Linked DNA regions of Homo sapiens. The protein of the gene in region 1 purifies or fractionates together with the protein of each later gene. This does not show direct contact. Each region holds a gene or a part of one and is shown on either strand. Other genes may lie near its edges.

Region 1 (7,046 bases):
AGCTAATTTGTGTCTTTTTGTTGTTGTTGTTGTTGTTTTTTTTTTTTTTTTTTTTTTTTTAAGAGACAGGGTCTCGCTATGTTGCACAGGCTGGTCACAAACTCCTGGGCTCAAGTCATCCTCCTGCATTGGCCTCCCAAAGTGCTGGGATTACAGACACGAGCCAGCACCCACCCAACTTAATTTTAAATTAAGTCTTCAGAGGGTTTAATCCACGGAGATAGACGATCTGATTTATGCTTTATAAACATTCTGGTGTTGTGTGGAGAATGGACTATAGAGGGGCAAGTGTGGAAAGAGGAGATAGGAGGTTTTTAATTAGGTTGAACCACACATGAAATTGCCACTTGGTAGCTCAACAATTATAAAATAGCAGCAATGCTACGTAGTTCAATCTAATAGAAGTTCAGGAGAGAGATGGTGGCTTGTACTGTAATAATGTCAGTGGCTGTGGTGAGCCATCAACTAAGATATATTTTGTAGGTAGAGCTGACAGAAGTTACTGATGGACTGGATCTGGGGAGTGAGGGAAAGGGAAAGGATGACTCCTAGGTGTTTGGCTTAAGCGACTGGGTCTATGGTGGTGCCATTTTCTGAGATGGAAAAGCCTGTAAAGAAATACTAATACAAGCACAGCTATCAGTGGGCTGCTGAGTACCAGCCTCTGGGCTGAAGCTACAAATTTAGAGTCATTCAAAGCTATTTCACTGGATAAGACCATCCCAAGAGAAGAAAAGAGATGGCAAAACTGAGCCCTGGAATCTCTGTCTTTATTTAGAGATGGACAGAGAAAGAAGAGGAAAACCTACAAAGGAGACCAAGAAAAGAGACCACTGTCTACAGAGGAAGGGGAGAAATCACAAATGTCATGATGTTTCCGGGTTCCAAAGCTTCCAGGAGGAAGGTGAATGGTTGCATCCATCCATCTGGTCTATCTGACAGCCGGCCCTGTTCTTTTTGGTTCACGTGGTCTTTAGTAATTTACTAAATAACCAAGAAAACCAGGAGCTTTGGGTACCAGGCAGCACCTCCATCATCAGACTCTACGAAGATGGAGTTTCAGGTGGTCCCCAACAGCTAATCTGATTTCTCCACTGTGGGCATGGACAGTAGAAATGCAACCATTACTCTTAAAAGTTGTATAGTACTGATCTCATTTATCATCTGTAATTTGTCATTAGTTTAAATGATCTATCATTTATTTAAAATGATATCTAGTCTATATGGTAAAATTTACAAAGAAAATTTTTGAAAATTATTCTAATCCCACTATACAGAGATAATCACCACCACAATATGATGAAATTCATTATAGTCTAGCTTTTCTTAGCTAGACTTTTTTATTTTATTATATTTTATTATAAAACAGTATTCTCTTTTGTTAAGAAGAATGCAAGCAACTGTGGTAGAGAGGTAGGTGAAGACAATACAGTGACTACTGAATTTAGATATTGCTAGTGACCTTGACGGTTTGGGTAGAATGGTTGAGATGGAAATGCTATTGTTGTAGGTAAAGGAAGAAAGAGGTGTGGAAGCGATGGCAAACATTAAAAACTGTTCTTTCAAAAATGTTGCTGTGAAGAAGATCATAGAGGTAGAACTGGAAAGGAATGTGAGGTTAAAGAATTTTTTTCTCTCTGCATATTCCTTTATTTTTTAATGTAAGGAATACTAGATAATATGGATAACTCAGAGGAGTAGAATAGTTTTTGATGTCTGCATGACTGTTATGGACTGAATATTTATATCTCCTCAAAAGTCATGTGTTGAAGACCTAACCCCCAATTGTGACAGTATTAGGAGGTGGAGCCTTTAGGTGGTGATTAGGTCATGAGGGTGAGGCCCTCACAAAGGGAATTAGTGCCCTTGTAAAACAGACCCCAGGGGGTTCTCTCTCTCTCTCTTTTCCTTTTTCTTTTTTTGGGGGCAGGGAGGGGGGACCAAGTCTCACTCTGTTGTCAGGCTGGAGTACAGTGGCGTGATCTCAGCTCACCGCAACCTTCAACTCCCTGGTTCAAGCGATTCTTCTGCCTCAGCCTCCCGAGTAGCTGGGATTACAGGCACTTGCGACCACACCTAATTTTTGTATTTTTAGTAAAGACTGGGTTTCACCATGTTGGCCAGGATGGTCTCAATCTCCTGACCTCGTGATATGCCTGTCTCAGCCTGAGGCATATATCTCAACTTTGGGAGTGCTGGGATTACAAGTGTGAGCCACCGTGCCTGGTCCGCTCTCTCTCCTTTCTACCATGTAAGGATACAGTGAGATAGTGCCATCTATGAACCAGGAAGTGGTCCCTCAATAGACATCAAATCTGCTGTTGTCTTGATCTTGGACTTCCTAGCCTCCAGAACTGTTAGCAGTAAGTTTCTGTTGTTTATTATCCACCTAGCGTAAGGTATTTTATTATAGCAGCCTAAACAGACTACGACAGTGACAAACCTGTTCCCTCAGTACTCATCCCCTGGACAACAGGTATCAGGACATCTTATGTTAGTCAGAGTAGGGTGGGTTACACTGTAGGAACCAGCCCCACAAAAATCTCAGGAACTGAACAAAATAAAGGTTTATTCTTGCTTGTAAAAAGTCCAATGCAGGCACCGCACTCCTGAGTAGTTCTATTTCAAACAATCACTCAGGGAGCTGGGTAGGGCCCTCAGGAATGTGGACCTTCAGGGGCTGCAGGAGCAAAGGGAGAATAAAGTCTCTCTCATAGCTTCCAAGAGACTTTCAAGGGCAGATAGAAAGGATCAAAGGCTGCCAAAAGTTCAGAGAGCTGTCCCCAGTAGAATAATGAGGTAAATGCAGATATCAGAGTGTAAGGAGAAGGGAGCATGTGTGTGCACGTGCAGTACGCTGAAGAATGGGCAAGATCGGGAGGGAGATGAAAAGGGGAAGCGCCCACCACTCCCATCTGCAGAGCCCATGCAAGAGTACAAATACAGGTCCACATGCCATATATCCAAGTATTTAAAATTTGAAATATGTTTTATCTTCCTACCATGGTGAATATCCCTTCATCAGGACCCGAGAAAGCAGGTTTGAATTTTGAAATCTTTGACTCCTCACTGCTCTGCTCTGGAGCATGGTGGCTCAGGTATAGCTAGCATTGGGCCAACCCCTGCCCCTCTCTCTTCCCACTTTGGCTCCATCCTACAAGCAGCTGCCCCTTGGCTGCCTCTTGGTCTTAGCAGCGCAGTTCACTTTCAGGAGGCTGGACCAGGGGAAAGACCTGAGCAGCCCTAAAAGTGGGGTTGAGACCACAGGGCAGGGGATTCTGTCTGGGGCTCCATTTGATCTAACAGGAGGGGTGGGGGCTTTGGGTGCGCTTGCCCTTTGTCTCCTCACCAATGGGGATGTACGTAGCCCGAGGAAGGCCAGAGCAGGGCCTCTTTCCAGGATGAAAGGGCAGTCCTGATCCCAGGCAAGGGATGCAAGAAGAACAAGACCATGGAGGCAGGAACACGGCAGGACTAGAAAAGAGGGGGCAGCCCTGGGGAGAAAGAAGCCTGGAAGCACAAGCAGAGGCCAGAAAATGTTCAAGGAAGGGCTGGGCGCGGTGGCTCACACCTGTAATCCAAGCACTTTGGGAGGCCGAGGCGGGTAGATCACTTCTGAGACCAGCCTGGCCAACATGGCGAAACCCCGTCTCTACCAAAAACAGAAAAAAATTAGCTGGGCATGGTGGCACATGCCTGTGGTCCCAGCTACTAGGGAAGCTGAGGCAGGAAAATCGCTTGAACCGGGAAGCAGAGGCTGCAGTGAACTGAGATCACGCCAACTGCACTCCAGCCTGGGCGACAGAGCGAGACCCTGTCTCAAAAAAAAAAAAAAAAGTGCAAGGAAAAATACACAATTTGCTTAACCTATGTGGTTAAGCTCTTCAATCCTCAGTCCCCTTGGCTTGGAGAGCTGCCCAGATATGCGAGGATGCAAAGGTTCTCGATTTCTCATGTTTGTGCTGAAGCTTCCCAATTGTGTCTGCAGCCTGCTACCTCAGCATTACTCATAAAAGTATTGTTTTAGTTTCTAGTGAAGTGAAAAAGGGGAACTACGGTTTTCCTTCCCATACCAGTTGAGAAATTATTTAAAGACAGAGATCCTTAAATGCTTGTTTTAAGGAAGCACGCTTCTAAAAATGACACACTTCACCCTCCTTTGGCGATGAGTTCAGGAAGGCTTCCTGCAGGTAGCATCTGACGGTGGCTAAGCCAGCCATGCAGGCTCAGACCTGGGGGCAGAAACTGAATGTCAAACCCCTTCCTGACATGTCTACCACGTTCCTTCCAGCAGGTTTGAATTCCGAAGTCTCAGACAAATGACCACACTCTGGGTGGTTTAAAACAACAGGGTCAGGCGCAGTGGCTCAGGCCTGTAATCCCAGCACTTTTGGAAGCCGAAGCAGGCAGATCACCTGAGGTCAGGGGTTAGAGACCAGCCTTGCCAACATGGTGAAAACCCGTCTCTACTAAAAATACAAAAATTATCCAGGCCTGGTGGCGTGCGCCTGCAATCCCAGCTACTCGGGAGGGTGAGACAGGAAAATCACTTGAACCCAGGTGGCGGAGGTTGAAGTGAGCTGAGATCGCACCACTGCACTATAGCCTGGGTGACAGAGCAAGACTCCATTTCAAAAAAACAAAAACAAAAACAAAACAAAACAAAAAAACCCCAGGAATTTATTCTCTCATAATTCTCAATGTCAGAAGTTTGAAATCAAGGGGTCAGCCATGTTGGGTTTTTTTTTTAAGGCTCTGAGGAAGAATCTGCCCCCTGCCTCTCTCCGGCTTCTGGGGGCTGCCAGCAATTCTTGGTGCTCCTTGGCTTGTAGATGCATCACCCCAACCTCTGCTTTTTTTCTTCCCTGCATCTTCTCTCTTCTCTCAATTTCCCTTTTCTTATAAGGACACCAGTCACTAGATCAAAACTCATCCTAATGCACTATGTCCTCATCCTAACTTAACCACCTCTGCAAAGACCCTACTTCCCAAAAGGCCACAGCACAGACACCAGCATAGACCTTTAACATATTCTTTCATGGGACACAATTCAACCCACAACAGTAGCTATTGTTCTAATCCTTGTATTACAGATTATAAACTGAGACCCAGGGAGTAACTTACCCAGAGATACAGAAAATAAGGGGTATGACTCAGTTTGTAATCTGTCTAGACCTCATTATTACCATTTGCCCTTGCTTGTACCAGGCCTTTTAGTGGGTGCTTCATTTTCATTTCTAATCCTTATCTCAACTGCAGAGAGTCATATCCCTCATTTTACAAACAGAGGCTTAGATAATTTAAATGGCTTCCCCAGTGTCTGAGTCTATTTGTGTTGCTATAAAGGAATACCTGAGGCTGGGTGATTTATAAAGAAAAGAGGTTAATTTGGCTTATGGTTCTGCGGGCTGTACAAGCATCGCACCAATATCTGCTTCTGGTTAGGACTTGTGGCTGCTTCCACTCATGGTGGAGGGGAAGGGGAGCCTGCGTGTGCAGACTCCCCTTGTATGGAAACAGAGGAGGCAAAGAGAGGGCAGGGAGGTGCCAGGCTTCATAACAACCAGCTCTCATGGGAACTAAGAGTGAGAACTCACTCATCACCACAAAGGTGCCACCAAGCTATTCTTGAGGGATCCACCCGCATGACCCAAACACCTCTTATTAGGCCTACCTTCAACACTGGGGATCAAATTTCACCATGAGGTTTGCAGGAGTCAAACAAGCCAAACTAGAGCACCAAGTCACCATGGGTAGGTAGAAAGTGGCATATTTGGGATCTAATCTGAAGTTGTGGCCAATAATTCTCACCCAGGTCAACACACCAGACATCTTTGGGATGGCTTGCTCCTCCTCATCCTATAGCCTCTGCCTTGAGATGGTGTAACTTCCTCCCTGCAGTTGAGAATCATGACTGTAAATGACACACTACTGGAATTGCCCATGTGAAGAGTGCAGAGGCAGAAAATGAATCACTGACCTTTACAGCACTGCAACTGATGCCTCACAGTGGGTAATGGTCTGACCAAGCATTCATCTTCTTTCCGGCAGCCAAGGAAGAGTTGAACAGAAAACCCACACAATCAGGAAGACCCATTAAACAGCTATATATGCCACAACTAATTACTTCCTTATGGGGTGCTCCATGTGGGCTGAAGATCACTTCCCTAACAGGTGCCTTCCTGGGAAGAAGCCTCTATTATCACATTGGAGAGGAACAAAGTCTCAGACAAATCCCATACTGCAGTTATTTAAATGACCTCATTCTTCCTCAAAATAGAAAATCAAAAGCATCACTTCCTGGCAACTGCTGTGCACTCTTCCTTAATATCAAAGATATGTAACACACACAGGCTCATCAGTGCCTTACAAACATACAAACCCTGAGCACAGAGCCCTTCAAGCAATGCTTGAGCCATAGCAGCTGCCTTAAATCAACACTGATGTGAGAAAACACTCTGCCCAATGCCACTTCTGCAAGTTGGAGCAACACTTACCAGTTAAGGTTGTTTTTACTCCTTTGTCTTGAAAAGACACCACAAAAGAAGCAGGGCCTAAGCATGGGCTTTGGAGGCAGGTGGACTTGAATGTCAACCCCAGCTCCATCATGCACTTCCTGTGGGAACCTAGGAAAGTTATTTCTCTTCTCTAGGCCTCAGTTTCCTTGCCTGTAAATGGAGATATAGACATCTGCCTCAGAAAGGAATGTGAACATACCACTCTTACCCTTGATTCTTAACAGGGAATAGGAGCAATGGGCAAGAATGAAACATTGTTTGAAGTCTGGTTTTATTTATTCTATGTGCCTCTACACTTCTATAATACTTAGAAAAGATCTGGCTTAAATAATGGATGTGAGCACAGTTCTGGCAGAGGCACTGCGGATGAGAAAACAATTGACAGAATGAGAAGACTGAATGAAAAGAGATTGACAGAAGTCATTCATTTCTTTCATGTGCTCAGTACTATCCCATTGAATAAAACACACTCATACACATGGCTGGATGGGGTTAGGGGACAATCTGTGACGCTTTATTGCCTGCCTG
Region 2 (7,046 bases), on another chromosome or scaffold:
TTGTGAATTATCTTTATTTCTGTGGCTAAGCCACTAGATTGTTTTTTCTGCCACTTGCACTGGAAGCATCCTGGCTGATACTACAAGAGCCCCTGAGCCCCAGCCCTGGCTGGGCCCCGCCCTCAGCAGGAGTGGGCTGCACTCACGTCAGGCTTGAACGGCGGCTCCAGCATGCCAGCTCCCAGCCGCTTGAAGTTCAGCTTCTTAAAGAGGGGGTGCTCCTTCACCTCGCGGGCACTGCCCCCACGACACCCCAGGCGTTCGGCAGGGTCCTTGCAGAGGAGCTGTGGCAGGGGTGAGTCGGCCAGGCAGGCCAGGCAGGTGAGTGGGTGGGAGGGAGGGAAAGGTGCATCCACCCCAGCCCTGGCTGGCCAGGCTTCTGTGAGCTGCCGTACCTGTGAGCAAAGTGAGCGGGCCTGCGGGGAAAAGCGCTCGGAATACTCCTCGGGGACCTCCTTCACCAGCCGCTCCACCTCCTCCCGCTTGATCTTCTTCTTCCTCTGCTGGAAGGGCGACTGGCCTGCGATCATCTCGTACAGGAGGCAGCCGAGCGCCCACCAGTCAGGGCTGAACGTGTACCGTTCATTCTTCACCACCTCCGGAGCTGGGCGGGCGGCATGGGAGTTAGGGCTGGGCAGGAGGCGGGCAGTGGACCCTCAGGCCCCAGGAACGCCAGTGCACGTTAGGTCTGGGATACACTCACACCCGCTGGCCAGGGGGGACCTTGGCCAGTAGGAGAGCACAGGCCCCATCAAGCGGGGTGAATACGGCCCTGCAGGAGGCCGCGCCCAGGGTCCCCGGGTCTTCAGATTTTACACAAGAAGTCAGAAATCTGTATTTTGTATGTGAAACCATCTGGCTTACTAAAAACAGTTTGACTTAAACACAAATGTAGGCCAAATTGGGCCCATGTGGCTACCATTTTGCAACTTCTGGATTTAATATCAGCGAGAAGAAGGAAACTCCTATTTTCTGAATACCTCCTACCTGCCAGGGCAGCCCTGTGGGGAGTTTTCCCTGAACTCTCCCTTTTCATCTTCCAGGCAGCCCTGGGAGGCAGGTATGATGAGTGTTTTCCAGTGGAGCAGAGTGAGGCCGGGAGCAGCGGAGTGTCTGGTTCAAGGCCACGCAACCGGCAAGAGGCGGAGCCTGCAGAGCCAGGACTCTGCCTCCTGCGTCTCTCGGTCTCCAGGTGGAATGTGGGGCCTCATGTTGGCCCCTCCACTGGCCTCCCTCACAGATGGGCACAGGGAGGGCAGGGACTGGGGCCACGGAAACAGGTTTGGGTCTCTCTCCTCCATCCCCCGGTAGCCACCTGCAGGCTCAGCCATAGCAGGGTTTAATAAGTATTCAGCAAATGAACGACATGGCTTCACAACTGTGTGCGGCCCCGGCTGAGTCTTGGTCTCCTAACCTCTAGAAGAGGAGCATCGGCATGGGCCCTTTCTACTGAGGCCCCTTTTGAGAGAAGACTCCCAGACAGAAGTGGGTGTGGCTGGGTGGGTGGATAGTGAGGGAACCCAGGAGGCTAGTGGGCCGGGCAGAGAAGACTCACCCATGTAACCCACGGTGCCCACACGCCCTTTGATGGTCTGGCCCTCGGGCACATGCACAGCTAGTCCCAGGTCAGAGATGCGGATGTGGCCTGAGTGTGGGTGGAGAAACAGGTGGACCCGTTAACAGGCCAGGCCTCTGCATCTCACCCCACCCTGACCCACCCCAGGCACCCTTACACACCGTGGTCATCCAGCAAGATGTTCTCGGGCTTCAGGTCCCTGTGCAGAGAGAAGAGCAGGGTCAGATGCTGCTCAGTTTGCCAGGGAGTCAGAAGGGGCCAGCCCCCCCAGCTCACTCGCCTCCGGGGGCCAGGTGTGGAGCAAGGTGCGAGACTCATTTGCTGCCAGGGCGACAGACAGCCCTGCTCTCCCTGGCAACAGCCCGGACTCAAGGGAGCAGAGGAAGGATCTAGAGCCAGGACTCCCAGGACTCTCTAGATGAGTGGAAGACAGCTCCACCCCGGAGGGGCCTCCCCAGTGGAGACCAAGGAGTCTCCACCCCTTGGTGACTGACTCTGCCTTTCCTCTCTATCAAATGGGACTACTCATCCGTCCCCTGACTAGGCTGTTGTGAGGTTCACAGGAAGTCGGCAACAATCAGAGCCAGGGTTCTCTCTTACCCAGCCCCATGTGCCAGGCACTCTGTACTTAGCTCACTGGGCCCCTCCAGTAGGAAGTTGGGCCTACTTCTAACAACCTGGGAAGTAGGAATTATAGTCTCTGCTTCCTAGAAAAGGAAGCAGTGTTGGGAGCAGGGAGCTCCTGGCCCAAGGTCACACGGTGGGGGGTGGAGGGGTGACAAAGTCAGGATACCCCGTGGGTCCAGCAGAGCCCAAAGCCTAGGTCTGGGCTACTCAGGTTGGCCTGGCGTGTGAGTTAAGCCGGTGCCACAGCCCCCAAACCAATGTCCTTCTGTAGTCTGGCCTGATCGGCAGCCTTGGCCACCCCCGTCCAGGCCCAGCTGCAGTCGCTGGCAGGGAAGGACTAAGCCCCTGGGGTGGCCGAGCCCTCCCCACCTGTACACGATGCGCTCCCGGTGCAGGTCCTCCAGGCCACAGCAGATCTCGGCGGCGTAGAAGACGGCCCGCGCTTCGGGGAAGCCAGCCTGGCCCATGTGGTAGATGTGGAACTTGAGGTCGCCCCCGTTCATCAGTGTCAGCACCAGGCACAGCGCGTCCTTGGTCTCATAGGCGTAGGCCAAGCTCACCTGTGGCCGAGGGGACCCGAGCCCTCAGGCAGGAGCTGCGGGGCGCTTGGCGGCAGGGCTGCCCAAAAAAGCCTTCTCGGTGCCACTCCTTGGGCCCAGCCTGCTCCCCAAGCCTGGTGTCAACACCCCAAACCCGCCCTTCCTGGCATCCCACATGGGAGGGTGGGGCCTGGGGGGTGGGGACGGTCGGTGCGCCAGTGTGGCCAAGGGGAAGGGAGAGTCTCCTTCTGTACTTACTACAAACCTACTGTTCACTTTCTCCAGGATCTGCTTCTCGTTCAGCGCCATGGCCTCCCCTTTCCGCTTCTTGATCCGCTTTTTCTCTAGCTTCTTGCAGGCATACATCTTACCTGTGGCCCGCACCTGGCAGGCGCACACCTGTGGCCAGACAGACAGGGGCGAATGGGGGCCAGCTGTGCCATTGCTGGGCATCCAGGGGGTGGTCCAGGTCCCAACACACCCACCCTATTCACTCTCCCAGGGGCTCTGGCCTGGCCACTCACCTCCCCAAAGCCACCTTTGCCCAGGACTCGGTATTGCCTGAAGGTGTTTTTGGTCACTGGCTGCCTGTGGCAAGGGGTGGGGAAGCAAACGCTGGCTGAGCAGGAGAGCCCAAGGCCTATGAAGAACCCCGGCGACCTGGCCTGTCCCGGCCCAGCCTTCAGGGAGCTCACCTTTCCAGCCACTTCCACTGCAGGAAACGGTTGAAGTAGATGCTGTCGAGGTAGTCGGCAAAAGGGGCCACGCTCAGGTACTCGTGGGTCAGCCTGTTGAGGAAAGGCAGGCCCAGCTCACCCGCCAGCCCCTGACACCTCAGGCTCTTGGCTTGCTGGGCCAGGCCTCCCGTTCTGTACAGGCTTAGCCCACAGGTATCGTCGTCGGCCAGTCCTCCTGCTAACCCCTGAGCGGGGAGACACACAGCCTGTGCTGAAGCTGTGGGTGCTACTGAGAGGGGAGGCAGCCTGCTCAGGTCACACAGCAGGGGCAAGGCCAGGGCTGGGCAGCTGAGCTCCCTCACCAGCCACCGAGCTGTTCACAGTCTTCCTGGCCCCCAGAAGCCCCCTCCGCTGGGCATAATTCCAGGCTTGTGGGCAGGGACAGGCTTACCGGGTGAGTTCCTGGAAAAGGTCTTTGCAGGGACCCTGCTCCAGCCGCTGGGTGCAGTTCGTCACCAGCTGCCGGGGGACCTCAGGGATGAGGTCAGGACCCTGGGAACAAGCCCCAGACAGGTCAGTGCAGGGGCTCCCTTGGATGGCTGCCCACTTCCAGGGGAGAGGGGTCAGGCAACTCGGGCTGGTGCCATGAGAGGCTGCAGGCCAGGGTGTGCCAGCCAGCCTGGTTGCTGAAGTCCTTCCTGCTGCCCACCCATGAGGCAGAGCGCAGCAGAGCCACTGGGAGGCCGCCTGGCCCAAGCCCAGCCCATACCCTGGGCTGCATGCCCGCCGTGCTGCCTGGAGCAGCTCCAGGGCACTCTCTGTCCAGGCTGTGTGTTACATGTGTCTGTATGAAGAGACCACCCTCAGAAGCCTGACACTGTGGTCACTCCTGTGCCTGACACGGGGCTCTGGTGGCTCCCATCATCTCTCCATCGCTGCTCACTCACCGTGTGGCTCAGAAAATTCTGCGTTAGCTGCCGCCCACATGCCTTCCGCTTGTCATCCGGGGTCACTTCATACTCGGCCTGCAGGGTGGAAAGCAAAGAAGCTGGAGGTCTGGGCAGGGCAAGCAGCAGGTGTGGGGAGGAGGGGCACATGGGGCCAGGACCTCGGCCACCCGCGGGGCTGGGCAGGGCTGGGCTGCACTCACCACCCCATCCAGGAAGGCGACGCAGCGGCTCAGCTCCGGCCTCGTGGCACAGAACTCTCGGAACAGCAGGCGCCCAATGGGCTGCCGCTCGCACAGGCTGTGATAGTCACGCTCTGTTGGCAGTGATGGAAGCTGCTGGGTCCACAGCCCGAGAGCACATGGGTGGGGCATGTGCCCACACCACCAGGCCCTGGGCCCCCACAACAGCTTCCAGCTCTGCAGTGTGGTAGCCACAATCTTCTTCAGAACCCTCACCACAACCCTCAGGTGGGCACAGCTGTTTTGGGGCTGTGAGGCCCAGAGAGGCTAACTGACTAGCTCAGTGTCACACAGCCGGGAGTCTGGCTCCAGAGCCCAGGCCTCCATCCACCTCCCTGCATTGTCTCCTGATTTACACGACTTGCGTATGTCACGGTACTGGGGTTGGGTGCGGTCCGTGAGGTTCCGGCCCAGCCCAGCCGGGGCCAGGCCCACACCTGCTGCCTGCCTGGCGAAAGTGCGAGAGGAAGCTGTGGCTTCCGGCAGGCTCTCAGCTGGGCCTCCTTCCCAGGAGGTGGAAGCAGCCCGGGTGTGCTCTGCGCACGTGCAGGCCACCGGGGGCCTCAGCAACCTTGGGTGCTGCTCAGACCTGGGGCCTTGGCCAAGATTGGCAGGAACTGGGGTCCTGGGCCCTTCTGTCCCCTCCCAGGAGTAACCCTGTCACACTGCCCAGGCTGAGGGCTTCTGGTCAAGGATTTGCTGGGCACCCCTCAGGGCTGGGCCTGGGAGGCTACGCCCCAGCCTGGGGGTCCCAAGGCAGTCAGTCTGTGGGCTGGCCCAGCTGCTGCTCCCTCTGTCCTGTGGGCCCTGCTCACCCTAGCTGGCTCTCCTTTTCAAAGTGGAATCAACTGCCCCAATCTGCCCCTGCCCTATTCCCGACACCCGCTTCAACCACCCTCGGTGTGACCCTGTTTGCTGTCTGCTCTCCACCCGTCCCAAGCCCAGGAACTGAAACTGGGCTGAATGGTGCAGTCCTCATCCTCCTGCTCACTGGAGCCCCCAAGTCTGCCCCTCTGCTCCGGGGCAAGGTCTCAGGGGAGGCTCCCCCGGCCCCAGCAGGGCCCCTCGCCTCAGCACCCCCAGTCTCTGCCCAGGCCTCACCGAGGCTGAGCCGCAGCTCTTCGCACTGGCTGATGTGAGGGAACTGGAGCATCTGCCGCCATTTCTTGCTTTTGCCTTTGCGATTTCCACCGCCACCTGTGGGAGCAATAGGACACTGGGTCTCGAGTCCCACTGCCTCAGAACTGCCTCTGGGTCCTCAGTGCGGTCCACGGCCTCTAGGGCCCAGCCAAGGCAGAGCTGAGGCAGAACAGCACCTCAGGCCTTCCCTCTGCACGCTCCAGCACGCCCTTGCTGCGTTCCAGGACACACGTGCTTCTCCTGCTTCAGGCTCCTGCACTGGGAGAGCCAAGAGAGGCAGTGAGGTCGCTGCGGGAGGACAGTGTTCCAAGTAGCTCCAACAATGGGTCCAGCCCCAGTTGCTTCCCGCCAGGTAGGAGTTCCCCCGGTGAAGAAAGGGGAGAAGGACGTCACAGTGCTGAGAAGTGCAGAAGGCCCGGGAGGGAGAGATTCTAGGCCAGTGGGGCAGGCCTGAGAGACGCACAGGGCAGCATGGGGACAAGGAGGCTCCCAGGCCTCTATCACCAGGCCCCACATCAGAGATATCAGACGCTCAAATGAGGCAGGGGCAAGGGGGCTGGCACCCAGGACTCCCCGTCCCCTGCACACTGGGGCTTCCCCGGTCCCCTGCCTGTCTTGCTTGACCTCGCAGACACCCCATCTGCAGCAGCTGAGGTCACAGCAGCAGTTCGATTGCCTGCAGAGCCCAACAGGTGTGGGAAACGTGGGCCAGATGTGAGATGACCAGGAACAGCGAAGGCCTCTCTGACAGGGCCAGCTGCAGGAGAACGCCAGCTGATTGCTTGATTGCTGCTAGGAGGGTTTCTGGCTCAATGTGGCCAGCTCTTCTGATTTTTTCAAAAGCAGCCGGAATTGCAGACTCTAACATAAAATATTGGCCCCCATTTTGTTTAAAAAAAAAAAAAAACTCACTGCAGCCAAATAAAATGTGTCAGGGAGCTAGCCAAATGTGTGTGGCCTGTGGGCCACCAGGTTGAGGAGGGTGGAAGGGGCCTGAGCCTCCCAGAGCTGGGTCTGAATCTCTGATTCACACTGTGGCCCATCACTCGCTATCTGTGAACCTCAGCTTCTCCATGTGTGTTACGTAGTGAATGGGAGACACTGTCCACATCAAGTAGGGCTGAGTCAAGAGGTGAACCCCAACTCCAACAACGCCATGGCAACCTTAGACAACCACTTTCTCATGCTGGGCCTCAGTTTCCCCTCTGGCTTTCTAGTCCTGTATCCATCTGGCCTGGGTGAGGGCAGGTGGTACAAGGGCAGAAGTTGCCTTCTAGGGAGGGGGCAAGGCTAGGTCC

What was found. The genes of interacting proteins can lie anywhere in the genome.
Region 2: the proteins of RUBCNL (region 1) and GRK6 purify together in Homo sapiens (affinity purification with mass spectrometry; 2 studies listed by BioGRID and IntAct, with this or other methods). This does not show direct contact.

Annotation. Positions count from the first base shown.
Region 1 is NC_000013.11:46,335,226-46,342,271, forward strand, and holds part of RUBCNL (protein associated with UVRAG as autophagy enhancer), read right to left. Parts: 3' UTR 1-7,046. UniProt on the Homo sapiens protein: Regulator of autophagy that promotes autophagosome maturation by facilitating the biogenesis of phosphatidylinositol 3-phosphate (PtdIns(3)P) in late steps of autophagy.
Region 2 is NC_000005.10:177,429,631-177,436,676, reverse strand, and holds part of GRK6 (G protein-coupled receptor kinase 6), read right to left. Parts: intron 5,806-7,046; coding exon 5,710-5,805; intron 4,967-5,709; exon of another isoform or gene 4,741-4,966; coding exon of another isoform or gene 4,683-4,740; coding exon 4,570-4,682; intron 4,445-4,569; coding exon 4,367-4,444; intron 3,972-4,366; coding exon 3,871-3,971; intron 3,531-3,870; coding exon 3,438-3,530; intron 3,331-3,437; coding exon 3,267-3,330; intron 3,142-3,266; coding exon 3,001-3,141; intron 2,764-3,000; coding exon 2,573-2,763; intron 1,776-2,572; coding exon 1,738-1,775; intron 1,646-1,737; coding exon 1,556-1,645; intron 605-1,555; coding exon 396-604; intron 285-395; coding exon 147-284; intron 1-146.